4 separate regions of the Homo sapiens genome follow, and regions 1, 3 and 4 are each linked to region 2. The links come from fine-mapping of genetic effects on gene expression. A gene starts in region 2. Each other region holds a variant in brackets. All regions are shown on one strand. Distances are from middle to middle. Region 1 has its middle 30 kb from the start of ACTN1-DT. Region 2 holds the start of ACTN1-DT (ACTN1 divergent transcript). Region 3 overlaps ACTN1 (actinin alpha 1). Region 4 overlaps DCAF5 (DDB1 and CUL4 associated factor 5).

What was found.
Region 1: its variant is fine-mapped to the expression of ACTN1-DT in whole blood (INTERVAL, PIP above 0.99).
Region 3: its variant is fine-mapped to the expression of ACTN1-DT in sigmoid colon (GTEx, PIP 0.96).
Region 4: its variant is fine-mapped to the expression of ACTN1-DT in breast (GTEx, PIP above 0.99).

Annotation. Positions count from the first base shown.
Region 1 is chr14:69,005,182-69,013,386 of GRCh38, reverse strand. No RefSeq gene overlaps it. Among named protein-coding and RNA genes, the nearest start is that of ACTN1-DT, 30 kb to the right of the region's middle. RefSeq lists an enhancer at 7,319-8,205. The variant T/C (reference allele first, on the strand shown) is at 3,676.
Region 2 is chr14:68,975,710-68,983,894 of GRCh38, reverse strand. ACTN1-DT (ACTN1 divergent transcript) reads right to left here and starts at 4,213. Exons shown (of 4, transcript NR_073422.1): 1 at 4,111-4,213; 2 at 3,708-3,967. It overlaps ACTN1 (actinin alpha 1), which reads left to right and starts at 4,593. Exons shown (of 22, transcript NM_001130004.2): 1 at 4,593-4,943. The coding sequence starts at 4,839. RefSeq lists a silencer at 4,536-4,585 and enhancers at 3,727-4,725, 4,726-5,725.
Region 3 is chr14:68,887,397-68,895,396 of GRCh38, reverse strand. It overlaps ACTN1 (actinin alpha 1), which reads left to right. Exons shown (of 22, transcript NM_001130004.2): 9 at 1,650-1,742; 10 at 3,114-3,344; 11 at 5,111-5,258. It also overlaps the pseudogene HMGN1P3. Among named protein-coding and RNA genes, the nearest start is that of ACTN1, 88 kb to the left of the region's middle. RefSeq lists an enhancer at 4,383-4,883. The variant C/G (reference allele first, on the strand shown) is at 4,176.
Region 4 is chr14:69,063,248-69,071,247 of GRCh38, reverse strand. All of the region lies in intron 7 of DCAF5 (DDB1 and CUL4 associated factor 5), which reads left to right. Among named protein-coding and RNA genes, the nearest start is that of DCAF5, 86 kb to the left of the region's middle. RefSeq lists enhancers at 4,389-4,488, 4,579-4,628. The variant A/G (reference allele first, on the strand shown) is at 4,580.

The DNA of each region.
Region 1 (8,205 bases), 29 kb before region 2:
GTGGAGGATACGGTGAGCTAAGATCATGCCACTGCACTCCAGCCTGGGCAACAGAGTGAGTGAGACTCCATCTCAAAAAAAAAATACATATATATGTGTGTGTGTGTGTGTGTGTGTGTGTGTGTGTGTGTGTGTGTGTATGTATGTATGCATGTAATGGAGACAAACCTGTCAACTAGGAGCTTCACACCACTCTCATAGCAGCTGCTGCCCCCCACACTTGCTTATTCCATCTTTGGGTCTTTCTGCTCAGAACTCAGAGTCCCAGGGGAGGAAGCTGGAATGACAGCCCCAGCAAGACTGTGCACAAGGAGAGAAGGATTCCCCCTAAAAATCAAAGCTGGGCCCTGCTTTCAAAGGAAGGGCAGAATATAAGCTGGACCAACAAATAACAGCAAATATTCCACTGGTTTAGGAGGGAGGTGGGTGGTGCTGGGACAGGGCATGGACTTGGGGCCAAGGAGACATGGGTTAGAACCCGAGCCCTGGCACGGCTGGCACTGTGGACATACCCCACTTAAAACCCCACCAGGCTTCCACTTGCTCCTGGGGAAAAGCCTCCAATTCTTTCAAGGCTCTGCATGCTCTACCTCCAGACTCATTGCCTGGACATGAGCCATTACTTCTCTCTACAGAGCTTTCCCCCTTCCCTTCCTCTGTGTATACTTAACACCTCCTCAGCCTTCAGGCCTCACTCACAGCCTCATCAGCCTGGTTGCCTAAATATATATATGAAGAGAGAGAGATTGAGATTTTGATTTTAAGGAATTGGCTCATGTGATTGTGGGGGCTGGCAAGTCCCAAATCTATTGGGCAGGTCGGCAGACTGGAAATTCAGCTAAGAGTGAAGTTGCAATCTTGAGCTCAAAATCCACAGGGCAGCAGGCTGGAAACCCAGGCAAGGGTTTGATGTTGCAATCTTGAGGCAGAATTTCTTCTGAAACCTCAGCCTGTGTTCTTAAGCCCTTCAACTGATTGAATGAGGCCCACCCACATCATGGAGGGTAATCTGCTTTACTGAAAGCCTACTGACTGTAAAAGTTAACCACATATAGCCCAGGCACGATGGCTCACACCTGTAATCCCAGCACTTTGGGAGGCTGAGGCAGGCAGATCACTTGAGGTCACGAGTTCAAGACCAGCCTGGCCAACATGGTAAAACTCTGTCTCTACTGAAAATACAAAAATTAGCTGGGCATGGTGGCACATGCCTGTAGTCCCAGCTACTCGGGAGGCTGAGGCAGGAGGATCACCTGAACCTGGGAGGCGGAGGTTATAGTGAGAAGAGATTCTACCACTGCACTCCAGCCTGGGTGACAGAGCTAGACTCCTCAAAAAAAAAAAAAAAAATTTAACCGCATATAAAGAATACCTTCATAGCACCATCTAGGCTAGTATTTGACCGAACCACTAGGCTAGTATTTGACCAAACCACTAGGTACCACAGTCTAGCCAAGGTGACAGGTAGAACTAACCATCACACCTTCCCTGGCTTCTGGGGAAGATGGGCACCTCATCTGCTCCCCCGTCCTTACTTACATGCTATTCTGGGGGCTGTGTTCCCTTCTTCATAGAACTATGGCACTTTGTACTATTTATCTGTTTATCTTTGTTGTTCTCCCGATTTTCCACTGAGCTTCCATTAAAATAATTAAGTAGAAGGTCATTAGACTGAGGTGGTTTTAAAGTCCTAGGTTCTTATGTAAGTAAACTGAATCCTAATTCAAAATTAAAGAGAAAATTGGCCCAGTGCAGTGGCTCACACCTACACCTTGGGAGGCTGAGGTGGGTGGATCACTTGAGCTCAGGAGTTTGAGACCAGCCTGGGCAACATGGTAGAACCCCACCTCTACCAAAAATACAAAAATTAGCTGGGCATGGTGGTGCATGCCTGTGGTTCCAGCCATTTGGGGGGCTGAGGCAGGAGGGTCGCTGGAGTCCAGGAAGTCAAGGCTACAGTAAGCCACGATCTCACCACTGCACTCCAGCCTGGGTAACAGAGTGAGACCCTTACTCAAAAAATAAAATAATGAAAATGTTTAAAAAGATAAAAAAAATTAAAAATAAAATAAAACCGTCCAGGTGTGGTGGCTCACACCTATAATTCCAGCACTTTGGGAGTCTGAGGCAGGCAGATGGTTGAGCCCAGGAGTTCAAGATCAGCCTGGGTAACATGGCAAAACCCTGGCTCTACAAAAAATAAAAAAAATTACCCAGGCATGGTGGTGTGCACCTGTAGTCCCAGCTACTCAGAAGGCTGAGGTGGGAGGATCACTTGAGCCCAAGAGGCGAAGGTTGCAGTGAGCTGTGATCGTGCCACTGCACTCTAGCCTGGGTAACAGAGTGAGATCCTGTCTCAAAAACCAAACAAAACAAAACAAAAAAAAAGAAAAGAACAAGAAAATGAAACTTAAGTTCAGCCAATCACAGGTGGCCAACTGGGTGTATATTATATCATCTCGAAATTCCCATAGGATAGTCTGAATAAGGCAATTGCTCAAACATTAACCAGTCAAATAATTTTTTTGCTCTCTTCTGCATTCACCCTATAAAAGCCTTCCCCTTGTACCCCATTGGCAGAGCCCCAAGCCTGCTTTGAAGTCTCTGTTTTAGGGCTGGGTGCAGTGACTCATGCCTGTAATCCCAGCACTTTGGGAGGCTGAGGCAGGCAGATCACCTGAGGTCAGGAGTTTGAAACCAGCTTGGTTAACATGCTGAAACCCTGTCTCTACCAAAAATACAAAAATTGGCCAGGTGTGGTGGCTGGCGCCTGCAATCCCAGCTACTTGGGAGGCTGAGGCATGAGAATCACTTGAACTTGGGAGGTGGAGGTTGCAGTGAGCTGAGATTGTTCCACTGCACTGCAGCCTGGGCAACAGAGGGAGACTTCATCTCAAACAAACAAACAAACAAAAAAAGTCTATTTTAAAATCACCCTATAAAACCCTCTGTTTTAGAGATGCCCAATTCATGAGTTGCTATTTGCTCAAATAAACTCTTTAACATTTTAATGTGCTTCAGTTTACCTTTTAACATTCCTAAGGTGTGAATTTGTGTTATGTATTCTTAAGTCTTCAGATGCTTATTTAAACTGAAGATTTAGGTGTTTCTTTAGTTTTGATCAATTCTCAGCCATTTTCTCTTTAAATATTGCTCCTTCCTCATTTCTTCTTTGATCTCATTTTTCCCTCTATGTCTCTTAGCCACAATTGCTTCCATACTGTTCTTGCTGTGCTGCTGAGAGGGTGATTTTTTTCAGAGGCATCACCCAGTTTGCTAAGCGTGTCTTTAGCTCCATCTTGTTCTGCTGTTTAATCCATTAATTTTAATAAATAATCCTTTTTTTTTTTTTTTTTTGAGACGGAGTCTTGCTCTTGTCGCCTGGGCTGGAGTACAATGGGGCAATCTTGGCTCACCGCAACCTCCGCCTCCCGGGTTCAAGCAATTCTCCTGCCTCAGCCTCCAGAGTAGCTGGGATTACCATGCCTGGCTAATTTTTTTGTATTTTTTTAGTAGAGAGGGGTTTCACCATGTTGGCCAGGCTGGTTTCAAATTCCTGACCTCAAGTGATCTGCCCACCTTGGCCTCCCAAAGTGCTGGGTAAAATTACAGTCATGAGCTACTGCACCCAGCCCTAAATAATTTTTAAAGCTGTATTTTTCATTTCTAGAACTT[T/C]GTTTGATTTGTTTCCCAACATTTTTTAATATTATCTTGTTTCTTATTATTATTTCTTTTCTATTTAAAAATTCTCTAGAATTATTTAACCTATTTATTTTATAACTTCAGGTTTCTCTACTACTCCTGCTTCTTAGGGGATGAATTCTGATTGGTTTGGTTTGGTTTGGCTTTGGTTTTGTATTTACTGATTATCTCTTATGGTGGTTTGTTTCCCTGTGTGATTTGTAATTTTCAATTGGGAAACTCATTTCCAGTGGAAGGTTGTTTTTGCTGTGGAATGCCTGTGAGGCTGGGTTGTGAAAATGTACAGAGTACCTTGGGTTTTGCTTCTGTCAGGGCCCTAGGTTCTGGACTAACTTTTTTTTTTTTTTTTTTTTTTTTTTTTTTGAGACAGAGTCTCCGGTCATCCAGGCCAGAGTGCAGTGGCATGGTCTTGGCTCACTGCAACCTCCACCTCCTGGGTGAGGTTGATTCTCCTTGCCTCAGCCTCCCGAGTAACTGGGATTACAGGGGCACACCACTACCTTTGGCTAATTTTTGTACTTTTAGTAGAAAAGGGGTTTCACCATGTTGGCCAGACTGATCTCGAACTTCTGGCCTTAAATGATCCGCCTGCCTCAGCTACCCGAAGTGCTGGGATTACAGGCGTAAGCCACCGCACCCGGCCTCTGGACTAACTTTTAGATTAACTTTTTGGCATAGGAATCCTGGGACCAGTGGCATGCCAAAGCAGGGGATGAGGCGGGAGCAGTCCATCTCTCTCCTCCAAGTGAGGGAGGCCTGGCCTTTCCATCTTTCACGTGAACTTTTCTCCCACCCAAGACTTCTACAGTGAGAAAACTGTTGCTCCTTCTGCAGGCCCAGTTGGTAGTTTTTCCAGCCTTTCTTTTCTGTGACTGGGATACTCCTCAAGGCTCCAAGCTGTATTCAGCTGGATCAGTTCCAACTCTCCTGCCTCAAACAGCCTGGGGCTGCCTCCTGTTTTTGAAGGGGCTTTAGAACTCTGGGCTCTAGGCCTTAGGGCCTATATCTAGTCAAAACCTCACAAACCGGAGGCTTAGCTCTCACTCCATTTTCTGGCTTTGAGTTCTTGGAACTATTTCTGGAATCTGGGGTTTTCCTTTCTCTTGAGCTCAGCTTTGTATGTTCAAGTGTTTTTCTTGTATTTTATACAGCATTTTTATAGTAATGAGAGAGGGGCTGTCTGAAACAGTGCAATCTGGCATGTTGCCAAAAACCTTCTGCTGCATTGACCTGTGATTATTCAAGGAATATAGTCCTCTCCACTAGACCATAAACCCCATGAGGCAGGGGCTTTGTTGACTTTGCTGAATTCCCAGCTTCTAAAAAGGACCAAGCACATGGCAAGGGATATATATATATATATATATATATATATATATATATATATATATAGACAGTGTCTCACTATGTTGCCCAAGCTGGTCTCGAACTGCTGGGCTCAACTGATCCTCTTGCCTTGGCCTCCAAAGTGCTGGGATTACAGATGTGAGCCGCTGCACCTGGCCCCTCAATAAATATTTTTGAATAATGAACAAAGATACTCCCTCTAGGGGCATTAATACCTAAATCTTAGGGATGTTGGGAGAATTTAACAAGAGAATATGTAATATGCTTGCTATATGGTGGCAACTCAGGAAAGGTAGCCATCACCATAATTTGTCTGTTAAGGCAAAAGCTTGAATGATAGTTTCCCTGCAATTCAGCTCCCACCCTCACCTCAGACAGTAGTCCTGGCCCAGGATGGCAGGCAGGTTCTGTGGGTGTGGCCTCTTGCCACTTCCCAAAGTACCAGGTCAGCCCTTCCACCAGAACAGCCACAGCACTGTGGTTTTATTTTTATTTTTTTGAGATGAAGTCTTGCTCCGATACCCAGGCTGGAGTGCAGTGGCTCAATCTTGGCTCACTGCAACCTCTGCCTCCTAGGTTCAAGTGATTCTCCTGCCTTAGCCTCTAGAGTAGCTGGGATTACAGGCACCTGTAACCACATCTGGCTAATTTTTGTATTTTTAGTAGAGACAGGGTTTCACTATGTTGGCCAGGCTGGTCTCGAACTCCTGACTTCAGGTGATCCGCCCGCTTTGGCCGCCTCCCAAAGTGCTGGAATTATAGGTGTGAGGCACCGCGCCTGGCCTGGAAACAGAATTTGAACACTGATTTGTGTGTGTGTGTGTGTGTGTGTGTGTGTGTTGTAATATCTCCTTGGACATATTAGAAGGATAACCCATTAAGGACTATAATAATAATATATATTAAATGCCTATTGTGTCGGACACCCTCTTTAGTTTAATGCTATTCATTAACTGCTAGGTGGGTACCATCCCCCACTTTGTAAATGAGGAAATTGAGTCTGAGTGATCGTAAGTAACTTACCCAAGGTCCTGTAGCTGATAGGTCAAGGGCTAAACTCCTCTAACTCCCAAGCCCAGTCTCCTGCTGCCAAAGGATTTTCTTTCCTGTGAATGAGAAATTCTCTTGGAGCCCTGGTTCCCAACTTTGACTGCTTGCTGGACTCTCCTGGGAAGCTTTACAAAATCCTGATGCTTGAGTCCTACCCCCAGAGATTTTTATTTAATGGGAAATCAGGATTTTCTGAAGTTCCCTAGGTGATTTTAACAGGCATCCAAGGCTGAGCGCCACTGGCTTAGTGGGTTCCAAATCCCACATCCACCAAGGTCCTTGACTGTAAATGTCACCTGGCCTGACCATCCCCACGACTGGAAAGAAGACCAGAAAAGTCCAGGACAGGAGCCCACCTCAAAGTCCAAGGTCCGTAACTGGTGCCTGTAACTGCTTGCCCAGAGCCAAACTGGGAAATAGGCACCAATAATAGTAACAACATAATGGTGACAATAATGATAGCCAGGGTTCAAACAGTATTTCAATAATGTACTTATTGTGACGTAGCAGGCGCCTTGCGTACTTTACCTCATTTGTTTCTCACAGCAATGCTATGAGTGAGGTGCAATGAATCTCTCCATTTACAGATGAGAACACTGAGGCACAGGCAGGTGAAGTGGCCAGCCCAGGGCCACTCAGCGAGGCTGGGCAGGTTGTGTTCTGGACCACTGGCTTTTCTATGCTGCCTCTCCAACCCCGGGCTGCCTCTAACTTTGCAGTCCCTGGGTCCCCTCAGAACTCTCCCGCTACTCACAGCCCTAGCACTTGATTTGCTGAGGGCCTGCCCCGAACTGGGGAGGTGGGGGTGAGCAATAAATGTGGATAAGGGGCCTGGCCTGGCCCCTCCACTGGATCTCACAGTCTGGCAGGGGTGATAAGGCCAGAGTAGGTGGAATGAGACACAGAGGATGGGTGGAGGGCGGAGGTGGTGGGATTCACCCTCAGCCACCAATTGATGGAGAGATCCTAACCCTTGGTCAGCAGGCTTCTAAGACACCCCTGCCACCGTATCCCTTGAGGCCAATGCCTGAGGCTGGATCCCTGAGCCCTCTTTCTGCCCCCGCACAGTTCCTGGAGGAGGACCATGTCATGGTTAGGACACACGTGGGTTCAAGACCAGACACCTCAACTCTGCAGACCTGGTTTCCTCACCTATGACATCCCTCCTCGCAGGTTTGCTGGAAAGATTGAACCAGCTGGACACAGCCAGTGCCTGGAGTCGGCCTAGCATAGTGTGGGTACAGCCCTTCTCTCATCCTCACCCTGCACTCCTCCCAGCGCCCAGCCTGGCTGCCCAGCCACTTCCCAGCACCAGCTTTCCATGTGGGAATGGAAACTCTGAGAGGGACCACGTCTCTTTGTATTTCCCCAGACTGAATTGTTCACAGCTGGCAGCATGGCTGAATGACTCACCCCTCCCGGAAGGATGCCTGTGTCAACCCAGCAGCTTCATTCAGGTCAATGCTTATTCCCTGAGCACCCGGTAAGTCCGTGGCTCTCATCCCTGGCAGCACACCAGAATCAGGGGGTTTGGAAGTGGGTGAAGCCACAAGGCAAGGAAGAGGCAGTGGAATCAGGATCTCTGGGGTGAGGCCCAGGCATCTGCATTTCTTACACAGTCTCTTTCATAAGGTCAGCAGAGGGTCTTCGGTGTAAGACCAGGGTGTTTGCTTAATATACAGAGTTCAGGCACACGCCCACACCAAGTGAATCAGACTCTGGGGATGGGTTGTACAACCTGTTTGAACCCCTTTCCCTGCAGGATTTCTTTCTTTTTTCACAGAAAGGTTTAGAAACTTCCCTACTTAGAAGAAACCAGTGTGAGGAATAAATGAGCCCAGCTGCCGAAGGACGTACCCTTGGGATGAGAGGATGGCCAGGAGCTGGAGGAGGCAAGGGCTGAGGGCCGGGAGGATGAAGATGAATCTCAGCTGAGGGAGAGACCAATCTGGGCTAGGGAAGGTGAGGCTGGGAGGTCTCTTGGAAGAGGCAGCTACATTCCTCTCATTCCTTAAAGGTGAATTTCTGAGGGTAGAATTTCAAGGGGGCGAATGGAAAGGACAGGAGCAGTATCTATCTATATCTATCAATCTATTATCTATCGGT
Region 2 (8,185 bases):
AGTGCAGTGGCCCAATCGTGGCTCATTGCAGCCTAGACTTCCCAGGCTCTAGCAATCTTCCCACCTCAGTCTTCCAAGTAGCTGGGACCACAGGTGCACTCCACCACGCCCGGCTAATTTTTAGTATTTTTGGTAGAGATAGGTTTTTACCATGTCACCCAGGCTGGTTTCGAACTCCTGAGTTCAAGCGATCCACCTGCCTTGGCCGTCCAAAGTTCTGGGATTACAGGCGTGAGCCACTCCACCTGGCTCCCTTAACTTTCTTTAGCTTACATTTTCAACTTTTTCCTCTTAACTGAATTCTTCTTTTCAAACAGCTCACATTTTCCAGTTTTAAAAGAAATCTTCCTTTGATCTCAGTACTTGCGTCTAGCTATTGCCCCTTTAGCTACTTCTTTTTCCCCTCTATATTCAGTCTCCATTTATTCACTCCTAATGTCTCTTTAAACTTACAGCTTTTGCCACTCTGCCAAAATTCCATTGGCCAAGGTCACCAGTGAATTTTCAACTGTCATATCCAAGAACACTGTTTAGGCCTTATTTTCCAGACTTTTTGAATATATCTGATATTGCCAATTCCTCTTACTTTGAAACCTTACTCCTTTGACCTCCTCAACGTCATATACTCCAGGCCCTCCTCGTTCCTGGATGACCATTTTCTTTGTCTCCTTCAGGGGTTCTTGTTCTTTGCTGTCCCTTTCTAAGTGTTGTTCTCCAGGGTTCTGCCCTCTTCTCATGTCCACCTGGGCATTCTTCATGGGTGGTCTCCTGGTGTTAATATCATCCATATGCAGATGACTCTCAACTCTGTTTTGCCTGAGGTCAGGGCTATGCAGTCAAACTGCCTGCTGGTCTATGGAATCTGGACATTCTAAGAGCACTCCAAATTCAATGTGTTCAAACTCAATCCATGATTCTGTTCCTAAATATTTTCCTTTTCTGTTCTATCTTAATTGGTCATAGTGCCACCATTCCCCAGATCATCTAAACTATAAACTCATGATTAAAGCAGGATTGCTCAACCTCAGCACTCTTGATATTTTGGGCTGGTTAATTCTTTCTTTCTTTCATATTTGGCTGGTTAATTCTTTCTTTCTTTCTTTTTTTTTTTTCTGGACAGAGTGTTGCTCTGTCACCCAGGCTGGAATGCAATGGTGCAATCATGGCTCACTGCAGCCCTGACCTCCTGGGCTCAAGCAATCCTCCTGCCTCAGCCCCCCAAGTAGCTGAGAATACAGATTCACACCACCATGGCCAGCTAATTTTTGTATTTTTGGTAAAGACGGGTTTTCGCCACCTTGCCCAGGCTGGTCTCGAACCCCTGACCTCAAGCGATCCACCTGCCTCAGCTTCCCAAAGTGTTGGGATTACAGGCATGAGCCATCATGCCTGGCCTGGATAATTCTTTGTTGTGGGGATGCTGTCCTATCCATTGTAGAACGTTTAGCAGCATTCCCAACCTGCATCCACTGGATGCCAGTAGGAACCCACCAGCTGTGATAACCCAAAATGACTCCAGACATCAACAAATATCCCTTGTGAGGGGGAGCTGTTAAAATATCCTAGAGTTGAGAACCACTGGGGTTAAAGGCACAGGTCTGGGAGTCACATGTACTGGTGCCATTTTGGACTAGTTACTACCTCTCTGAGCCTCAGTTTGTTTTCTCTGTAAGACAGAGAAACACCTCATAGGAGGAACTTAATATAGGTAAAGTGCATGGGATCTCTCAACAAAAACACTTATCTTTTCTCCAGACTCCTAGGTCTTTCAGTTTTATCCCCTAAGTATTTCTGGTCTATCCACACTTTTCCATTTCGACCTGGATTATTGCAACAGCTTTGCAACTGGTGTCAAAGCTTCCAGCCAGCCTTGCTCCCCTTAGATCCACACTCCACCTGGCACATGAGGCCTTCATGGTCTGGCTGCTTTGCACCTCTCTAGCCCCGTCTCTTGCCCCTCCCGGCCTTGGATTTCTAGTCCAGCCACGTTGAGATGCTAGACATTCCTTTGTATACCATGCAGTTTCCTGTCCTTGTGCATTAGCTTGTGCTGGTCCTTCCTTCTGGAGTAACTTCCCACACTCTTTATCTGGCTGACTCTCATTCTTTAACGTTCACTTAAGTTTCACCTCCTCCAAAAAGTTAAGCCTGGAGCCTCCTTTCCCACGGGGTTCAGTGCCCCTCATCTGTTCCAACAGTACACTTGTCAGATCTCTCTCCTTGCGTCTAACTCATGACATCATATTTTTGTTTCTGTGTCTGTCTGCTGGGCTGTGTGCGACAGGGACTATGGCTTTTTCATCTCTGTATACATCTAGTACATTCCCTGATATGCAGATGGTGCTCAGCAAATATTTATTGGGTGAATGAATGGATACAGCACTACCATTACCCTCTGTGTTAGGTTTAGAGCCACAGTTTAGAAGCGGTGATAAAATGGTCCATAAATCAGCTGTCTCTGTGGCTCAGAAGCAGTGCTTCCTCAGCCAGGGGCTTTTGGAAGGCACAGTGCTGGAGGGTAACACTCATATGAATATGTGTGGTTGACGAATGATGCAGCCAGAGACACCATCCGATATCTGCTCACAACAGCAGCAGTGGCTCTTCTGAGAACCAGGGGGCACTTTCTTCACCTTTTCCATGGGTGGCTTTCAGGTATCCACCATCGCCTGGAGAGAAGGTAGAGGACAAAATCCAGCCCATAATTCAGGGCCCTTCCTGTCAGTGAACTTCTTCTTCTAACTCCTTCACTCACTTCTGAATTGACATATTTGCATTTTAAATTTAAATTTAAATTTAAATTTTTGCAGTTGATGCAGCCATTCATCCTACAAATACAGTCCTCCCTTAGTATTGGCAGGGTATTGGTTTCAGCATCCCCATGGATACCAAAATCTGAGGATGCTCAAGTCCCTCACAGTCAGCCTGGGTATCTGCGGGTTCTGAAGCCTGTGGATATAAAGGGCCAAATGCATATATGTATGTATATATTTTGAGACAGTCTTGTTTTGTCACCCAGGCCGGAGTGCAATGGTGAAAATGCACCTCACTGCAACCTCGACCTCCCAGGCTCAAGGGAGTCTCCCGCCTCAGCTTCCCAAGTAGCTGGGACTACAGGCGTGTACCACCATGCCCGGCTGATTTTTGTATTTTTAGTAAGGACGGGGTTTTGCCACGTTGGCCAGGCTGGTCTCCAACTCCTGGGCTCAAGCGATCTGCCCGCCTCAGCCTCTCAAAGTGCTGGGATTACAGGTGTGAGCCACCGCCACCGTGGCCAGCCTCAAATCCATAAATTAAGCTCTACTATGTGCTGGGTGCTGGGGTGGAAGACTGGCACATCTGTTGTTCACAAGACAGTGCATAACCTAGGAGAGGTTTATTTGCTACTGTTCTTCGGAACCGGGATCCCATAGAGGAGCCTGCCAGAACGCGAGGCCTGCTCCTTCCCGGGCATTAGCGCGTTTAGACTCTCCTCTTACTAAGCCCAGGGAAAGGAGTCCTGGCAGGTGGCAAGCAGAAGTTAGAGCTATTTAGTCACTCCCGCCCTCCATCCTCCTCCAATGACAATAAGGTTTTGTTTGTCAGGCATAAGGTTACCGGATTGGCCTGTGAAGTCCAGAAGCTCTTTCCGCGCTCGGCTCTTTGAGCCTCAGTTTCCCCATCTGTCAGGCGTGTGTATGTGGGAGGGGGGTACGGAGTAGATTTACCTAGATCACTCGGGGTTGTCCCTTCCAGTTTTGAGGGTGATGTCGGGGTGTCTGTGAGGAGGAGGGAGGACCCTGCCACGCGAAGGTAGTTTTGGTCGCAGCAGCCAGCCAAGTGTGCCCGCGGAGACCGGCAGGGAATTCCGGGAGGCCCCGCTGTGGAGCGGTCCCCAGAGCCCGAGGGCGAGCTAGAAGAGTTCCTGCGGCGAGGCGGGAACGCTCGGTAGCCTCTGAGAGCAGTTCGCTGGCGAGAAACCGGGTTCCTGCAGGGCAGGGATCAGCCGGGTCGCGCCTTGTAGGGTGGGGTGGGGTGGGGCGGGGCCGGGGGGGGCGGCGGTGGAGTCGTGAAATTCCCAAGAAATTCCTTTCCATTGCCCCACTCCGCCCCCTTTCCTAGGGTGCCGACCTGCCCAGACCCAGGTTCCCTGGGAAAGAGAAAATGAATGTTCTTCGGGTTTCCTCGCGTCCTTTCTCCAGCCCCCTCCCACCCCGGGGTTTGGAGCGCGCGTGGGAGCGCAATAACGGTGGCGGGGAACGGGTCCAATCCCGGCGGCTCCTGGGGTTCCCAAGCGCGCTGCCACTCAGTCCCCGAGCTCGGGGAGGCGTCTCCCGGCTTCGGTCCCGTTCAGCTTAAGCTGGCGTCACATGAGCCGCGGGGGAACGGGCACCGCGGGAGTGGGCGGGGGTGTGCGCGCCGGGAGGGGGCCGCCCAGTCCACCTATATGCGCCGCAGCCCGGCTGACGGATGCCAGGAATTCCCAATGAGAGGCGATGGGGGGAAGTTTGGGCAACTCGGCCTGGCCAATGGAGAGCCTCGGGAGGGCTCTGCCCCTTCCCCCCGCCCCCGCCCGCCTCGGCTCCCGCAGCGCTAGTGTGTCCGCCTAGTTCAGTGTGCGTGGAGATTAGGTCCAAGCGCCCGCCCAGAGGCAGGCAGTCCGCGAGCCCAGCCGCCGCTGTCGCCGCCAGTAGCAGCCTTCGCCAGCAGCGCCGCGGCGGAACCGGGCGCAGGGGAGCGAGCCCGGCCCCGCCAGCCCAGCCCAGCCCAGCCCTACTCCCTCCCCACGCCAGGGCAGCAGCCGTTGCTCAGAGAGAAGGTGGAGGAAGAAATCCAGACCCTAGCACGCGCGCACCATCATGGACCATTATGATTCTCAGCAAACCAACGATTACATGCAGCCAGAAGAGGACTGGGACCGGGACCTGCTCCTGGACCCGGCCTGGGAGAAGCAGCAGAGAAAGGTTAGCAGCCGCCCCCGCCCGCTGCAGCCCCCAGCCCCCAGCCCCCAGCCCCGACCCGCTCTGCCTGCCGGGCTCTCGGCTCCGGGCTCTGAACCGGTTCCGGGCGCGCACGGGAGGGGGCGGGGGCGGTGCGGCCGTTGCGAGGTGGGGTGTTGGGTTACAGGCGCCTGGCGGAAGCGGGAGCGCCCCTGCCCCGGAGCCCGGGAACGCCGGGCCGGAGCGCGGGGAGGTGGCGCCGCTGGCGGGCAGGTCTCCTTGGGGGTCCGTGGTCCAGGCCACCCTGCGGCTGTTGCAACCATCCCCGCGTGGGCTGTGCTCGGGGGCGGTGGTCTTCAGGCTGGGGCTGAGACCCCGGCTCGGGGCTGCTTGCTCCGGATCGATTTTCCCTTTTCTTCCGCCCCTGGCCACCTCTCCATATGGCGTGCGGTGGCAGCGCCGCTTCCTGGGCCGCCCTGGGTTCAACCTGAGCGGCGGGCCTCCCGGGACCCTGCTGCCCCTTAGGCGGAGGGGAGAGCGCCGGAGAGATCGGCGGCCGCCTCCGGATCTGCCTGGAGAAGGACCAGCTGGAGTGCGGCTGGGGACGAGAAAACTGGGGGGCGTACGCGGGCTCCCCCGCGGGCCCTGTGGGGGCGGGGTCAGGACAGCAGACCGTTTTATTGCTTAACTCAGTGGGTTGGAAGCTGTAACCCCGACATGGGCTTGCGCTACGTCCTGCCCCTCCGACCCCCGGGAAAGGTGGGCAGCTCGGTTCGAGTTGAGGGGCTGCAGAACGAGGGTCAGTCTTAGGGGATATTTGGGGCCAGTCACTGGGGATCCCTACTTAGCCACGGAGCTGCATCCCAGGCAGGCGCGGTGTGCCGGGTGCGCGCCCCGCCACGGGAGCTGGGCTCGGAGCTGGCGATGGGACCCGGGCACAGTGGCCAGTGGCAGGAAGAGGTCAGAAACCACTCGTGGTGGTGGGGGGAGGGCGCCTCAACCCTACCGCTGCTTCCTGCCTGCGCGGTGAGCCTGTGCCCCCAGGCGGCCACGTACCCTGAATACCCCTTTCCCTCCCCCTCCTCCCGGCTGCCCACTTCCATCCGGTCCCTCCCCGTTTCATACCCTCCCCACCCCCAGGCTGATCTGGGAATGGGGTTTTGGGTGGGGGGGGGACAGGATGGCGCGTCCCTTTGGATAGTGCGGTTAGGGCTGGGCTTGAGGGAGAACGCTCATGTCCAAAAATGGTAACATTCATTCCCTTTTTTAAACTTAAAAGGGGGGTAGTTTATAGAGCCGACTGAAGTTTTTTTTTTCAGCCAAAGGCATCCTGTATTAGCTCACTCAGGAATCCTAGGCCCTGAAACGGAGCCCTTTTACTCACTTCATCAGACAGGCAGAGGTAATCTAAAACACACACAATGGGCTTCCTCAAAGCAGGATGACCTGGGCCGCGGTGCCCAAGGCCTATGCAGGGCTGGGCCCTATACAGCGACATCGGTCATCTACATCGGACATGGGAAGGTCCCCTGACTTCGAACTGACTTCTTTGTAATGTGCCAGTTGCTTAAACTCCCCCTCTTCCTGTCATCTTCCTAGTAAGAGCTGAAGACTGGGGGCTGCAGACAGTCCCCCACTCACTTGGCTTATTTCCTGGGACCATGGGTGCTGTGGGTGGAACTGAAAAGTGAGTGAGTAATTTGGAGATCCCTATGGGGCACCAGGCAGAAGGCTCTTTAATAATTTCAGGGTGAAGCCTTCTTGAGAATGGATTTTAAATTAGAAGTGAGATTAGGGTGGTGGATTGGGGTCTTCCCTGGGGGTTAGAATCGAAGGAGAAATCCCTGCTTAGGGAGCACCTGCTTTGTGCCTGGGAGGGGCAGGAGTAACAGAGCTGCCTAGGAACTAGGCCCCTGAAAGGACTGTGAGACCAAGTTCCTAGGGGACAGACACTGAGCACCGGCCTGAACATCGTATTTAATATTTCTGAATGAATGAATATATTAAACGCAGTGGGGAGAAGAATATAGATTCCCAGGGCTCTGACCTGGGTGGCAGTGGGTGTGCCCCAGGCCTTTGGGCAGCCAGGTAGGAAGAGGTGGTCTGGGAAACTGGGTTATCCTGGAGGCAAACTCAACAGTGCCAAGAACTGGCATTTGCTGATATGTGCCAGGCACGAACAAGGACTAGGAAACCAGGGCCAGAGAGGGGAAGTAACCAGCTCCAAGTCCAGACTGTGTTTGGTGGGGCTGGGATGCAGCCATGTTTGGGACTGGCAGCTTCCCCTCACTTGTCCCTCCTTGGCAAGGGAGGCAGGAAAGCTGGGCCTCGCAGCCAGAGCCAGAGCATCTGGGAACCAGGAGAGCCGACACGTGCTTTGGGCGGGGTTGATGGAGGGGCCATGGCAGAAGGAGCTCTGGGCCTGACTCTGAAGATTCAGATCCACATTTTTTGTTTGTTTGTTTCCTGTTAATTCTCTAGATTATCTTTCGTGGGCCTCAGTCTGCAGAATTTCTGGCCTGCCTAGTTCTCAGTAGGGTGATATTAAGGAGGTGGTATTACAGGTGAGGGATAAGACGTAAGGTAAACGTGTTGCTTTTGACACTCTTTCTACTGACTGGGAGGCGGGGTTTGTGTGGGACCAGAGTCCACAAGTGGACAGAGGCTGATGGTTCCAGAGGGAGGCAGGGGAGTGAGTGTGAGGAGGGGAAGAGGAGGACACAGTGTAGAGGGATACAAAGGTCACCCGGTAGAAGGCAGAAGACCCTCTTTTTAGCTTTGGTGCAGCCATAGCTATTTCTGAGACTTTGGGCAAGTCTTTCCATTTCATCGAGCTTTTATTAGGTCATTCAGCAAATACTTTGTGAGCACTCATTCTGGGTCAGACACAGTTCCAGGTATTAGGGATGGGGCACTGAGCAAGACAGACCAAGTTCCCGTTCTTGTGGCATTTCCATTAGGTTTCCTCCTCTGTAAATGGGACACATTTCTGCCCGTGGAGCCCTCAGGACTCTTCTGGGGAATCAGGTTAAATGATGCATTGAGAAGTGCTTCCTTGGTGAAAGTATGGCCTGATGTGGAGGCAGGGAGAAGTCTGTGCAGGCAGGAGGCATGACTCAAGAAGCTGCACTGGCTTGGCCGAGGCTTGTCCCTCTTTCAAAGAATGCTTCGGTACGGAGTTCATGGGCTGGTCGCCATGCCTCCAGACACAAAATGCAGTTATCTTCCAGACAGAGCACGTGGATTAGAGGCATTTCCTCTACTTT
Region 3 (8,000 bases), 88 kb after region 2:
AGCATTTCCCTCTTCGTTGCTTCTTGGGATTCCCCGTGGGTGCTTGTTGGTTCTCGAGAGAGATGGCGATCAGTCAGGAGTTGTGGGTGAGAAGCAGTCATGGCATCTCCAGGACAGGGTTGAGTTGGGGTCAGGGGGTGAGGGCCTAAGGATGTGACTCCCTGTCTCAGTTTCTTGAGGCCCAGGACTCAAAGTCCCCACCTCAGGGGACTCTTAGACCACCCTCTGGCCATTCCCACCTTCTCCTTATTGGTTCTCCCAACCCATTCTGACACCTTGCTCTGCAGGTCATGCCTCCCTTGACCTCCTTGACTGTGTTTCTGACAAGGCCTTTAGGATGATCTCATTCTGCCCCTTACCCCCTGCCCCACACACCCCAGCATAGTCATCCATCCACAAAGCACATGATTTGGTGGGCGGATTCGAGAAGTTCTTCAAGGAAAAAACATTTCCGTCTTCCATCTTAGTCATTCCTTCCAATTCTAAGCACGTTCATTCTCAGGAAGCTCTTCCTTACAACCAGCCTCAGTTCATCTTGCTGCAGTTGAAACCTGTTTTGTCTTGTTCATCAACCAGTTGTGAGGTCCTGTCTTTCAACCTGTTAATCCAGGGATCATTTTTCATCTGCAGGGCACCCTTCTCCAGGGTCTCAGGATGCATGTCTGTCTTCTCACAGATATCATCTTCTCCCACCCCCAGGCTGTCTTCCTTTCTACCCTCTGGCCCCCAAAAGGCTTTGAGTTCACTTCCCCCTTGGTGTAGGGTTGGAATGTATGCAAGAACACAGCTGGATTTTAAAACCACCTATTTGAAGTGGACTCAGGAATGCTGGGTCCCTGCTGGTGTTAGGGGTACAGTAGCCCCCACAGCTGCAGAAGGCGCTCTCCCACTAAGGTTTCTTAGTCTTTGCCTGGGATTGCCATTCAGTCCCCTTTCCTTCCCTTTGCTGCTGAGGCCATCTTGGGTCCCTGCTAGCCCAGCACGCAGCGCATGATGTGTGCTTAGCTGTCTGGAAGAGGCCTGTGCTGGGTTTGCTGGGCATTGAGCCCATACTTGGTTGATCCGGAAGTCTGGACTTGGGTGCAGTAGAATGTCCGTCAGTTTTCTCTAAAGTGCTTCAGGCTTTGGGCCAAGAGCCTTGGGAGATTCTGCAGGGATCCCAAGAGGTCCCATGATTTCTCAGTCAGCACTTTATCCCAGGACTCCCGGATTTGAATTCCCACATCTCCAAGACCCTGGAAAATCCAGCCAGAGGTCCTAAGCCTTGCAGTTCCAGTGCCTCCACTTGGAATTCCAGGATGGGCATGAATTTTCTCACCTCTCCACCTGACCTGAGTATTTTGATTATATCAGTCATTGGATTAGTTTCTTCCCAACCTGCAGGTTGGGCCTTAAACTCAGGCTGTTCTCCAGGGGCCCAGTTCAGCCACCAAGACCTCTGTCCAGGCTCACTTGACCCATGGGACCTGGCCATGGGCTGGCAAGGAGGATGGTAAGGAGAGAGGAGGAATGTGACCTCACAGCCTTCTTAACTCCCTTCCAACCACAGGGAGCTGCAGGGATGGGAGGGGCTTTGTCAGCACAGGTGTGTACCAGGTGCCCCTGCTGCTGGGGCTGGCTGGTCGTGACTCTCTCTGTCTTGTTGCCAGGCGGAGACAGCAGCCAATCGCATCTGCAAGGTGTTGGCCGTCAACCAGGAGAACGAGCAGCTTATGGAAGACTACGAGAAGCTGGCCAGTGATGTGGGTACCCCCGGGTTCACCTGGCCTGACTCTAGCAAGAGTCAGTCCCCTAGAACGTGTACCTCCAAGTCTTTCCTTGGAGCATAGTCTCAGGCTTGTATAGTCTCTGATCCCAATACTGCTAGTCCAGGGCAGCCTGAGCTCTGTTGTGGCTCTCCCAGAAAGTAGTGAGGTGGGGGCAGAGGCCAGTCCCTGAGTTATCATGAGCCTAGGATATCCCTTTGCCTCTCAGAGTCTTCTTGTTTTTTTCACTTGTCAAGTGAGAGTTGAGCCAGGGGATGTCAAAGCCTTTCCAGCCTAGTGTACTCTTAGTCTGTGAGTTTTGCTTCAGTGAGAAAAGGAGCACATCTGGTTCTAAGAGGGTGAGGGTAGGGTTTTCGGTAAATTAGTGCCGGCTCAGGCTAGCATAACAGCTACCAAAAGTAGCGGCTGTCCCCTACTGTTCAGGGAACAGGATGGCACAGTGCTGGGTTTCCTGTTCTGCCATTGGCTACATTTAGGTTAAGCCTCCTCTTCTTGAAAGAATTCAGCCCGTTGAGCTGCTCAGCCCAGCCTCTTGGTGGATCTGCTGCCCAGCATAGTAAGAACGCAGGTTCTGGAGCCCAAGTGCCTGGGTTTAAATTTCTGCCATTCCAGCCAGGTCACCTTGGCAAGTTACAGGACCTGGTAGGGCCTCGGTTGTCTCCTCTGTAACATGCAGGTGATCACAGCCCTTAGCTTTGTAGTGTTTCTGTGGTGATTCAGATGAGTCCATGTGTGTGATGTGCCTGGCCCCCTGCAGGTGTTCAGTGTATTCCTATTGTCATGTGCACCCCTCCACCTTCTCCACCACCATCACCTTGGCCCAAGGAAAACAGTCCAGGCCGTGCCTGCTTGTGCTCCAGGCCAGCTCTCTGCCCAGAAGCCAGCCTCTTCCCTTTTAAGTCAGAGACCCACATTCTAGATTCTTAGGAAGTCAGATGGCAAGAACTTCTGGAAATAGCTGTTAACCCCCTCCATGGTATAGATGAGGAAACTGAGGCCCAGCCAGTTAGAACCTGGTACTAAAACCCAGGCTTCCTTCCTGCCTTTTAGTTGCACTAACTTCACACCAGGTCTATGGGTCTTCCCTTAGCAAAGCAGGGAGGTTGAGTGACGTGACTGTGAGTCGATGTACCCTAGTAGCCAGGCTTCACGAAGCCTGTGGTTCTCAGAGGGAACACCCTGGAAGCTGACTTCATGGCCTGGGAATGTCAGTGGTTGGGAAGGAGTGTGCTATTAGGAGAGACCCCTTCCCCATGTGGGAGGGCTGTTGGGAGGAAAGGGAGGCTGGCCCTAGCACACTCCCTCCCCGCCTCCTCACCTCCTGCCCCCACCGCCTTCCCACCCTAGCTGTTGGAGTGGATCCGCCGCACAATCCCGTGGCTGGAGAACCGGGTGCCCGAGAACACCATGCATGCCATGCAACAGAAGCTGGAGGACTTCCGGGACTACCGGCGCCTGCACAAGCCGCCCAAGGTGCAGGAGAAGTGCCAGCTGGAGATCAACTTCAACACGCTGCAGACCAAGCTGCGGCTCAGCAACCGGCCTGCCTTCATGCCCTCTGAGGGCAGGATGGTCTCGGTGAGCACTGGGGGTGAGCCTGGGCCCCCAGACTGGACTGCCTCCACCTCTGAGCTGCTCCTAGTTGTGGTCAAATTCAGCTTTATGGGGGTGCGGATGGGCGTGTTTGCTTCTACCTACATACACTGCTCCAGAAGTCACTTCCCCCTTCCAGTTACCACCCAGGCTCAATCCCAAACTCGGCCATGTGGGGCAGCCCCCTCTGCCCAGACCATTCTGGGTCAGGCTTGCCCTTCCAGACCCCTGAGCATCTACTCCAGACCTCCCTCTCACAAAAAATCATCCCTATGAACACAATGCTTTTGACACCCTGAACCAAACAGGGCATAATTGAATCGCAGTCAAGTTGATTTCTACTTCCATGGAATCTTAAGTAGTTAAAAAATATTATTATTGAAGTAATAGTTTTGTGGGTTTTTTTGGGTAGTATATTTCAAAGATACAAATAAGCAAAATACAGAACATGGAAATTACTGAAAATCTTACTACCCAGTATCAACTTTAAAAAAAATGATTTTAATCCTTTTGGTTTTTTCGTGTAAATATTTGAGGGAATCCTAAAGTATATGTATTTGAAATTAAACATTTTTTCCCGGTTTCTGTACTCAAGTGTCCCCTGACAGATAACTAAAGCCTGTTTTATATAATAAGCTGCTTTAGGAAAACCCCCAATCTTACATTATATTCTGACCAGCTTTCCATGTCATAAAATACTCTTCTTTTAGGTTATTTTTGTTATTCATCCTTCTTGACCCTGTCCCCACAACTTAGGGAAAAATTTCATAAGCCAGAGAAACACACAGAAGAAAATGTAAGAAATTTGCCATGACG[C/G]AGCTTTTTGTCCTTAAGTGAAAAGTAACAGGAGTGTCATGGGCACATGACAGGTCTAGAAGGGGAGGGTGAAAGGCAGACAGCATCGTGGGGAGACGGCAGCCCAGGGGGTCATGGAGGGAGAATACATTGCAAGTGGGTATGCAGTTTGGAAAATTGCAGTCATTTCGGGGCTCCAAGGCTGAATCAGTAGCTTTTAGGTGGCCAGAGCCACTGCTAGCCTAAGGGTGCTCTATGAGAATTAGACAAAGTACCCTTTCTGGGGGACAGATGTAGCTTGGCCTGGGGACATGTGGGGAGGGTGGCTTGCAGGGTGCAGCCCCAGTGACTGTCCAGCTGGGCACTGTTGCACAAACTGGAGGCATGGCCCTGTCTGAAGGGGCGTGTGGGTTTGCACTCAGCATCTGTCCTCCCAGAATTCTGGCCGGCTCACCCAGGCCGGGGTCTCTGTAGGCTCCAGGTTATTGCCCAGAGGCCTGAGTCCATGAATGGATCCAGGACAGTGGGGAGGCTGGGCAGCTCCAGTGCCTGCTTGCCTCATTGCACATTGTTGGTCTGTTTACCTCGGGGGCCCTTTGCCTTAGCACATGTGTGACCTCTGTGATCGGTTAGAGTCCTGCGGGAAACCAGTCCTAGTCAGGGAGAGTCTGGGGCCCTTTCCCCACAGGGCTCTGTTCTCAAAGTCCCATAGCTGGGTGACCAATGTAGATGCAGGTCCCATGCCTTGCCCAGGAGGCCTGGCTCCTGGGAGCCCAGAAAATACCAGTGGGAGATGGGAGGTATGGTGGGGCAGCCTGGCTAGGGTGGATATGGGGCAGAGATAGGGAAGAGGCTCTTCCTGGAAGGCATGGGGCACCTTCAGGGGTCTAGGGGGCTAGGGGACCTGAAGCCTAGGCCCAAGCCAGACCCTGACCCTGTACCTCCCATCCCCACAGGACATCAACAATGCCTGGGGCTGCCTGGAGCAGGTGGAGAAGGGCTATGAGGAGTGGTTGCTGAATGAGATCCGGAGGCTGGAGCGACTGGACCACCTGGCAGAGAAGTTCCGGCAGAAGGCCTCCATCCACGAGGCCTGGACTGACGGTGAGGCCAGCCCAGCCTCCTGCCTCCCCCCAGGGCTTCACTTCCCTACTCTTCAGCCCAGCCAGCAGCCACTATGCTATTCTTTGCTTTTCATTTGTTTCATTTGGTCTCTTACTAGTTCCATGGCTTTAGGCAAGTTCATTAGCCTTCTGGTCGCCTCAGCTTCCTCATCTGTAAAGTGGGAATAATAATAGTACCAACCTCACAGGCTTGTAAGAATTGAATCAGTTAATACATAACGAAGTTCTGAGGAGAGTTCCTGCATAGTGCAGTGCTGTGTGAGTGTTCACTTTGCAGTCAAATCCTCTACCCCGAGTGTTCACTTTGTTTTTTAGTTTTATGGGGGTTTTTTTTTGAGATGGAATTGTGTTCTTGTTGCCAGGATCGAATGCAATGGTGAAATCTCAGCTCACTGCAACCTCCACTTCGTGGGTTCAAGTGATTCTCCTGCCCTAGCCTCCCTAGTAGCTGGGACTACAGGTGCCTGCCACCATTCCCAGCTGATTTTTGTATTTTTAGTTTCACCATGTTGGTCGGGCTGGTTTTGAACTCCTGATCTCAGGTGATCCATCTGCTTCTGCCTCCTGAAGTGTTGGGATTACAGGCGTGAGCCACTGTGCCCAGCCGTATAATGTCATCTTAAGGAATTATGTCTGCAAAGAGCCTGTTTCCAAATAAGGTTCTATCTTGAGGTTCTGGGTTGACATGAGTTTTATGGGGGACCCCATTCAACCTAATTCAGTCTCCTCATGGGTTGTTGTGAGGCTTAAATATTATAGTACATTGCATGCTTGTGGTTTTCATCTCTTCAGCTCTTTTTCCTCTATTTCCTGGCCTCCAATTACAGTGAACCAGCCTTTGCCTTAGCACATGTGTGTCCCTGTTGCTCCAACCTTGAGGCTCTTGGGGGCGTGTCTGGTGTCTGCTTATTGGCAGCTAAGGTGAACTCTGAAGAGAGAGGATCATACCTAGGATAGTATTTTCCCCAGAACCTGGACCAGGGCTGGAGGTGGGGAACAGGCTGCCTATCTGCTGGGGCCCCTCCGGCCATTTCAGCTGGAGCGTGGGACAGACCTATTGGCCGGCGGAGCTCAATGCCCTAAGACTCCCCCAGTCAGCCCTGTTTTGTACTCCTCAGATCTTAGGTTGGAGATGAGAAGGAAGAACCATACCCCAAGGCCATTTGGGAGTGGCTTGGCTTGGTGTAGGGCAGCGGTCCCCAGCCTTGTTGGTACCGGGGACCAGTTTCGTGGAAGACAGTTTTTCCATGCAGTGGGGAGGAGGCAGATGCTTTCAGGATGACTGTTCTACTTCAGATCATCAGGCATTAGATTCTCATAAGGAGCACACAACCTAGATCCCTCGCATGCGCAGTTCACAATAGGATTTGAGCTCCTGTGAGAATCCAGTGCCGCCCCTGACACAACAGGAGGCGGAGCTCAGGTGGTAATGCTCTCCCACCTGCTGGCTCACCTCCTGCTATTTAGCCCAGTTCCTAACAGGCCACGGACCAGTACCAGTCTATGGCCCAGGGGGTGGGGACCCCTGGTGTAGGGGATGGGAGTGTGCTTGACTGGCTAAGGGGGGTTGGCTCTAGTTCCCCTTTGTAAGTACAAATGCTGGGCTTTGCACACAATGGTAAGAGGTTGCTGCCCCCACATCCACTGTGCGTGTATGGAGTTATTTATCCAGACGTGACGGGCAGAGTGGAGGAGGCACAGTGGGGATTGCACTGATTCATCACATGCTTCTGTCGGGTCCAGCTCACAGCCAAGGTACAAAGCAAAGATTGACCTCGTTGCCTTGCCAGCCACCAGCAGGGGCATGAGAAGTGCTGGCATGCTGGCACAGCCTCTGGGGAAAGCAGTTTGGCCACATGTATTCAGTTCTACCAATTTTACTACACTCTGACCTGGGAATTCCATTTCTTGAGACTGTCTAAAGAATCTATCCTGGGCGTGAGGAGTGGCAGCGGCCAGGCAGCACAGTTTCGCAAAGGCTGTCAGCATGCCGCGGCCCGCAGACACCTGGCACGCGCCCTCCCTGCCGCCAGGATGCCCAAGGGGAAGGTCAGCTCTGCTGAAGGAGCCGCCAAGGAAAAGCCCAAGAGGAGATCGGCGCGGTTGTCAGTTAAACCTCCTGCAAAAGTGGAAGCGAAGCCGAAAAACGCAGCAGTGAAGGATAAATCTTCAGACAAAAAAGTGCAAACAAAAGGGAAAAAGGGAGCAAAGGGAAAACAGGCCGAAGTGGCTAACTAAGAAACTAAAGATTTACCTGCAGAAAACGGGGAAATGAAAAGTGAGGAGAGTCCAGCCTCTGATGAAGCAGGAGAGAAAGAAGCCGAGTCTGATTAATACCATATACCATGTCTTATCAGTGGTCCCTGTCTCCCTTCTTGTACAATCCAGAGGAATATTTTTTATCAACTATTTTGTAAATGCAAGCTTTTTAGTAGCTCTAGAAACATTTTTAAGAAGGAGGGTATCCCACCTCATCCCATTTTTTAAGTGTAAATGCTTTTTTTTAAGAGGTGAAATCATTTGCTGATTGTTTATTTTTTGGTACAACCAGAAAATAGTGTGGGATATTGAATTATGGGAGGCTTTGACTGTCTCGGGTGTCAGCTTAACATTCCATAGATGGGGGGGTTAGTTTTTATATCCTATAATACAAAGCATATTAAATGGCAATATGGAGTCAGTCCTGCATTTAATATCTTGAACATTTTAAATTACTTCTGTT
Region 4 (8,000 bases), 87 kb before region 2:
CCAATAGGACTTCCTAGTGGGCTGAGGAGATCATTTCAAGATGTAAGACCTATATCCACTATAAAACTTGCTACCAGGGAAGATCAGGTCCAATTTTTTAGTAATTTCAAACAACTCATTCTAAAAATCCCTTTAAAAATTAAAGGAAGGGGCCGGGTGCAGTGGCTCATGCCTATAATCCCGGCACTTTGGGAGGCTGAGGGGGGCAGATCACTTGAAGTCAGGAGTTTGAGACCAATCTGGCTAACATAGTGAAACACTGTCTTTACTAAAAATTCAAAAATTAGCCAGGTGTAGTGGTGCACACCCATCATCCCAGCTACTCGGGAGGCTGTGGCAGAAGAAACGCTTGAACCCGGGAGGGAGAGGTTGCACTGAGCCGAGATTGCACCGCTGCACTCCAGCCTGGGTGACAGAGGAGACTCCGTCTCAAAAAAGAAAAACAAAAAAAAAAAAAGAAAAATAAAAATTAGAGGAAGGAATAGAACTAGAACTGGGAATTTTGCTGTGGCAGAGAAGAAGTCCATTGGAATATGTCTAAGACCTCTAAAGTAGGTAGGAAGGGCATCTGTTTTTATGTGGTAATTCTGAAAATAAAATAAGTAGACCAGCAGTTACATATAGAGCCAGTGTTACATATTGAAAGGAGCATTAGACTTAAAATCATACCTGGATTCAAGTCCTCTAACTTGAACTTAACTACCACTAACTACATGTCTGATTCTTAGCAAGTTACATAATAGTATTTGTCTGAGCGTCAGTTTCTTACATAAAATGTCTCCTACCTCTGCCTTATATTGTGTGTTGATTTAATAATCTTGGAAGCTTTCTGAAAACAATGTGTATTCAAATACAAGACATTGTTATTGCTATGTATAGTAAGATCGATGTAGATCCATCATTTCCAAAGCATTTTTTCCCTAGTAAGTTAGGTATGAAAGTAATGGATTTGGCAATGTGTGGGAAAGGTTGGTAGGTGTCTCTTGAAAATATTTATATTGCCTTTCCCTTCTCTTTCCCTGAATTCTTGTTAGAAAGGGCTTTAGGGTTTTCACAGGTTGAGTTGCTTTTCCAGAGCTACCTCTTACTCTAAGACCTTCTTATTTATGGAAAGAAGCATAATGTGATAGAGTTGTTAGGAATGGCTTTAAATTCCTGATCCATTTATCTTCCAACTGGGGGCTTTGGAAAAATTTCCTAATCTTACCAAACTCCTGTGAAATAAGGATAATACCACCACCAACAACAATAATACTTTCTTAGGATTATTGTGAGAGTACTTAGTAGCTACTCAACGACTGTTATTCCTCACTAAGAAAGCCTTCTCGGCTGGGCACAGTGGCACATGCCTGTAATCCCAGCACTTTGGGAGGCTGAGGTGGGAGGATCGCTTGATGCCTCAGGAGTTTGAGACCATCCTGAGCAACATAGTGGGAACCTGTCTTCACAAACTTTTTTTTTAAAACTAACTGCTGCTAGGCACAATGGCTCGTACCTGTAATCCTGGCACTTTGGGAGGCTGAGGCGGGAAGATCAGTTGAACCCATGAGTTTGAGACCAGCCTGAGCAACACAGCAAGACTGTGTCTCTAATAATAATAATAAAAAGAAAGAAGAAAAGAACGAAAGAAAGAAAGAGAACAGAAAGAAAACTGGGCATGGTGGCATATGCCTGTAGTCCCAGTTGCTCAGGAGGCTGAGCAGGACTATTGCTTGAGCCCAGGAATTTGAGGCTGCACACTTCAGCAACAGAATGAGACTCCGTGTCTACAAAAGAAGAAAAAGAAGGCCTTCTCCCTTTTTAAACTCACCTTTTAATAACTCCTTAGAGATCAAGACATTGTCCTTCCTTGCTACCCACCTGGAATGGCTGATTGAGTTGTTCTTGCATGAAGGCTGCCCTTGACTCATCAGTAGTTCAGGAGGGTTCTCTTATGTGACAAATTTTTCCCTGAATGGAAGGGAAAAACATGTATTTTTACTGCCGAGTCACTGTAACCACCCCCACTGGCAGTAGGCTGATGAAGTAGGCTGGAAACAGCTGTAAATGCATTTTTTTGGGCCTGCATATGTTTGTGTGCTCTGTCTTCTTTTTCTAGACATGTATTCACTCTCAGTGACTTAGGCCTAGGTATCTGCTTTTTCCTCCCATGTAACTGGAAAAAACAGCTGTTTTTAATTGGTTGCAAGTAGTTGGTTATAAACACATGTGAGGCACATATGATGAAAGAAGAACTCAGCATAACTGACTTTTTTGTGCAACTAAGCATTGATGCCTGTGGAGCTCTTTGAGCTGTACTGACAGCATTGGCTGTCCCCATCTGGCTTTTCTCATTTCTTAAGTAGTTATGTGGTCTCCAGGAGGCAGTCACTGCTCTGTCCGTATTGTCAGTATCCTTGATGGTCCTCTTTATGGTTTGACACTGGAAGACCCTGCAACTGTTCACTTGGGCCTTTTTGAAATGCTAAGAGGCTTGGATACCTTTTTTAGATGTACCAGGAAAAGAAATAGTCTATGCCTTGCAGTAAACTTTTTTTTTTTTTTTTTTTGAGATGGAGTTTCATTCTTATTGTCCAGGCTGGAGTGCAATGGCATGATCTCGGCTCACCGCAACTTCTGTCTCCTAGGTTCAAGCTATTTTCCTGCCTCAGCCTCCTGAGTAGCTGGGATTACGGGCATGTGCCAGCATGCCCAGCTAATTTTGTATTTTTAGTAGAGACAGGGTTTCTCCATGTTGGTCAGGCTGGTCTCGAACTCCCGACCTCAGGTGATCCTCCTGCCTCGGCCTCCCAAAGTGCTGGGATTACAGGCATGAGCCACCACATCTGGCCCTTGCAGTAAACTCTTAATTCTACCAGTGGGGTCAAGAATGAAATAGATTGTCTTAAATCTACTTACCAAACCTCATTTTAGCAGATAACTTTAACTTCAAGCTTTATTCCAGAGAGGATGATGAGGGCTTTAACTTCAATTTGTTCACTTATTGAGTATCCTTAGATAAGACATCATGTAAAGCTCTATGGGCCACTGAAAAATGAACATTTTTTGCCTTCAGAGAGCTTCCAATATAACAGAGATGAAAAAAGGATGTGCATGGGCACACACACAGACATATGCACTCGATGTAAAAGTGGCTTCTGAGGCCCATAAAAAAGATAATGAAGGAGGTCTTGAAGAGATTTGGGAAGATTGGTAAAGTTTTCCTGCAGTTAGCATTTCAAAGGACCCTGAAGGATAGATAGGATTTCAGCCCCTTTATTTCTCTGCTCCTGCTTAACTACATTATAGTAAAAATGCTGTAAAAGAATATCTGGGCCAGGTGCAGTGGCTCAGGACTGTAATCCCAGCACTTTGGGAGGCCAAGGTGGGCAGATCACGAGGTCAAGAGATTGAGACCATGCTGGCTAACATGGCGAAACCCCATCTCTACTAAAAATACAAAAATTAGCTGGGCTTGGTGGTGCGTGCCAGTAGTCCCAGCTACTCGGGAGGCTGAGGCAGGAGAATCGCTTGAACTGGGGAGGTGAAGGTTGCAGTGAGCCGAGATCACGCCACTGCACTCCAGCCTGGTGAGACTCCATCTTAAAAAAAAAAGAATATCTGGGCTGGATTAGGTGGCTCACACCTGTAATCCCAGCACTTCCGGGGGCCAAGGCAGGAGGATTGTTTGAGCCCAAGAGTTTGAGACCAGCCTGGGCAACATGGCAAAACCCCATCTCTACAAAAAGTACAAAAAATTAGCCAGGTGTGGTGCCATGTCCCTATAGTCTCAGCTACTAGGGAGGCTGAGGTAGGAGGATTGCTTGAGCCTGGGAGCGGGGGGTTGCAGTGAGCTAAAATCATGCCACTGCATTCCAACCTGGGGAACAGAGTGAGACCCTGTCTCAAAAAAAAAAAAAAAAAAAAAAAAGATACGAAATCGGCTGCAGGAAGATGGAAAAAAAGAAACATTTATTGGGTGATGGAGCCCATATGTGAAGATTTTTTTTTCCTGCATGCTTGTGTTCCACCATCTAATACACTCACATCTTTTCATTTCATCATATATTTATTAAAAACCTTACTATGTGCTAGGCACAGTTCTAGAGACTTGGGATACAGTGGAGACAGAAGCCCTGCTGTCATGGAGCTTATGTTCTAGCAGGGGAAACAATGAACAATAAACATAGTAAATTATGTAGTATGTTTAAAAGGTTAGAAGTGCTATAGAAAAAGTAGAACAGAGGAAGACGGGAAGTGGTATTGAGGACAGTGTCCCAGCATGATTGATAAATTGCTATTAGACCAAGACATCAAGAAATCTTGACCACATTGCTTTCAGCTTTTGAGTCAAAAACGTACTCATTCTTGGAGGACTTCATGAAGCAAATGAACTTGACACTAAACAAAAGCAACTGAAATTGGCTAGAAATGGGAATAGTATTCTGGCTCTTCAAAGGCCTGAGGCAATAAACCCCTGGCTGAATGTTATGAAAGTGGGCCATAAGTAGAGAAGGGAGGGAAATTAGGACATACACATTTCCCTTAGTCTTCTCTAGGGAGACATTTGACCTTGGCATTTAGAAAGATCTTTATCTGA[A/G]TTTTGAGCAAGGTGTTTTCCCCTGGGATCCTGGGGTCCCCTACGGTAGTAAGTGGATTACTGATACTGAAATTCTGTGAGATACCTTGTTCTCATTTTCTTTTCTGAGATCTTGCAATAGATATGGTTATAGTCTTCCCTACCCCCCTACCATCTCTTCTAAATCAAAGAAAGATTAATATATGGGGACTTTGGCCTCAACTTAGGAACTAAACTTAAAAAGGAGTGTCAGCTGGCCAGGTGCAGTGGCTCATGCCTGTAATCCCAGCACTTTGGGAGGCCAAGGCGGGCAGATTATGAGGTCAGGAGTTGGAGACCAGCCTAACCAACATGGTGAAACCCCATCTCTACTAAAAATACAAAAAAATTAGCTGGGCGTGGTGGTGTGCGCCTGTAATCCCAGCTAGTCGGAAGGCTGAGGCAGGAGAATTGCTTGAACCCAGGAGGAGGAGGTTGCAGGGAGCTGAGATCATGCCACTACACTCTAGCCTGGGCAACAGAGCAAGACTCCATCTCAAAAAAAAAAAAAAACAGTGTCAGCACATTTGGCTAAGCCAACCAAAGCAGATGGCCCAGAGAAATGACTGTTGGTTTATACAGAATTTTATAAACAAATGGCAGCTCAGGAATGAGATCCTTTTTCCTGGGTATGTGGTATTTTATTTATGGGTACCCATTATTAGCGATTCAGTCAGGACTTAGTTCAGCAACCAGGGGGTGAAGTTGATCCTTACCTGGGCCCTTACCCACAGTCTTAAGAGATGACCCTGAAGGGAGATTATGTGGGTTATATAGTTCTTGGATAAAAATATGCCCTTCCTGTCTCCTTCCAATTTGATACTACTATTGACCAGCATGGTCTGATTAGATGACAGAGGAAAGGAGACCCTAGATTCTTTCTGATATTGGCATTTTGACTTTAGCTATTTCAAATTAAAGGAGAAGCTATCTGGCTTATACAAATTTCTAGGACTAATCTCAAAAAATGATTGTACGTAAACTGTTCAGTAGCAGCTATATTCAATAATATCAAACCTGGGAACCAGGAAAGAAACTATGAAAAACCTCTCTGAAGCCATTTATTGCTATGATTGTACACAGTCTTGGTTACCTTAAACAAATGGCCACTATAATTCTGCCTGTACCTATTTTCACCATCAGTCTCTGGGTTTATTGATTCCCTCTTCTTTTTCAGATTTCCTAGGTACCAGCATGGGTGGAAAGAAGGGCAAAAAAGACCTTGTGTTAAAATTGCTACCAAGAAGAAAAATCAGGGCTGGGTGTGGTGGCTCACGCCTGTAATCCCAGCACTTTGGGAGGCCGAGGCGGGTGGATCATGAGGTCAGGAGTTCAAGGCCAGCCTGGCTAAGATGGTGAAACCCCGTCTCTACTGAAAATACAAAAATTAGCTGGGCATGGTGGTGGATGCCTGTAATCCCAGCTACTCAGGAGGCTGAGGCAGAGAATTGCTTGAACCTGGGAGGTGGAGGTTGCAGTGAGCCGAGATCGAGCCACTGCACTCCAGCCTGGGCAACAGAGCAAGACTCCGTCTCAAAAAAAAAAAAAAAAAAAGAGGTCATATTGCATGAAAGTGCAAGAGAAACAGTTTTTCCATGGTCTGAATTTTCAGGCATTGATAGCCTTCAATTAGTCTTTAGATCTGATAGTTACTTTAATTGTGTTCCAAGTCAGAAAGATTGGTTTGGTTGATGCACTTTAGTTCTATGATAGCTGATTCTTTATATGAGACCTTCCAGCTGTCTTCTTTTGACATACTTATTCTAAAATTGCTTTCTTTTCAAACACTATGCATTCAGCAAGTATTTATGCACCTGGTGGACTTTGGACATTGCACCCCAGGTTCTAGGTATGCAAGAGTAGGTAAGACAGATCCAGTTCTATTCTCATCATGTACTCAGTGTCAGTGGTGTGATGAAATGGCTTATGGTAATGCTGTAGAGCTTGTGCTCAGGATACCATTGAATACAGTGCCCCTCCTTTTAATTTAGAACTTCAGAAGAAAACCACCTATCTAATAACTGCCTGAAAGATTTAGAAATCTAAATCTTTTGAATGTAAGCTTCTAACTCCATTCCTATTCAAACTCTTCCATCTTCCAAAGGCAGCTGATATGGTGGAAAGCATATTAGGCATTGTAGCCAGACTCTGGTTCAAATCTTGGCTCTGCCATTTTCTAGCTTTATGACTTGGGATAAGTCACTTAAATCCCCCCACATCCCCCCTCTTTTTGAGGCAGTAGGATTAAACAAGAGACTGTTACTAGATTTAAATCAAAGTTTCTTTGCTTAACCACCCCAGTGGGAGTAGAGGTAGAAGTAGGATGTTAAAAAAGTAAAATTCAGAGGACACCCATGAGCAGAAATGCTACTTGTCATAATGAACCTTATCTAGAAGAAATAGACCCAAAGGAACTTTTTGGGGATGGTAGGATCTCTCTGTCAAGACAACTATTTTTGGGTTCTTTAGATTCCTATTTATCCCTCTTCCCTAATTCTCTCTAGTTTATTTTCATTTTGACTGGCCCAGCTTCCCTTTCATACCACCTTAGGAAGCCAGTGCTAGGGGTTCCCACCATGGCAGTCTACATCAGTGCCTAACTTTTCCTTGTCCTCTTTCTCCATGAAAAATCCACTAATCCTGTGTCCTAGTCCCTCTCTTTTTTTATGGTTTATTAGCAAACTTGATGTTGGGCTGAGATATGAATACGATAAATATATTTTCCATTCTGGACAATTCAAATATTATTGTCAAATATGGAGAAAAATTTTGTCACCCATCAAATAGATTGAGCACCTAAAGCTGGCTGAGTGAGTAGATGGGTGCAGTCTGGAACCTTTTGCTGTCATAAAAAAGATATGTACGTGGCAATAAGGAGGTATCTCTTCCATGAGACAAAAGAAGAGTTGTGTTAGGGGGCCAAAAGCAGAAGATACCCCTAGAGCCATATTATTTCTGGGGAAGGGACATTGTTGTAGTCATTTTCCCTCCAAACACAGACATTGAGAAATATTTGGAATGAGTGTTTGAACAAGGTGGAGTTGGGAGTGGAAGGAGGCACTTGGAGCAGAGACTGTCTAATGATACTTTGTGGCCTAGTGGCGCCATGCTCCTGGTAGGGACTAAGAGGGGATCCCTTGAGTAGATAAATGAACACTCATTTGTTTGTGTCTGGATGCAACACATTTTGCCAGTTAGCCAAATGCACATGTTTCTCTGTGTGTCCTGAGTTGTCTGATTGCTCAGAAGGAACTTGATCAGAATTTATGTGCATGTGTTCTGGATGGATGTGATACCATTACCAGTGCAGTGGAAACTTTGAATTTATCCCAAGTTCATAAATGATAACATGTTTATCTATGTTACAAGTTCCAGGCCTCTGGCACTTTTCTCATTCACTGAA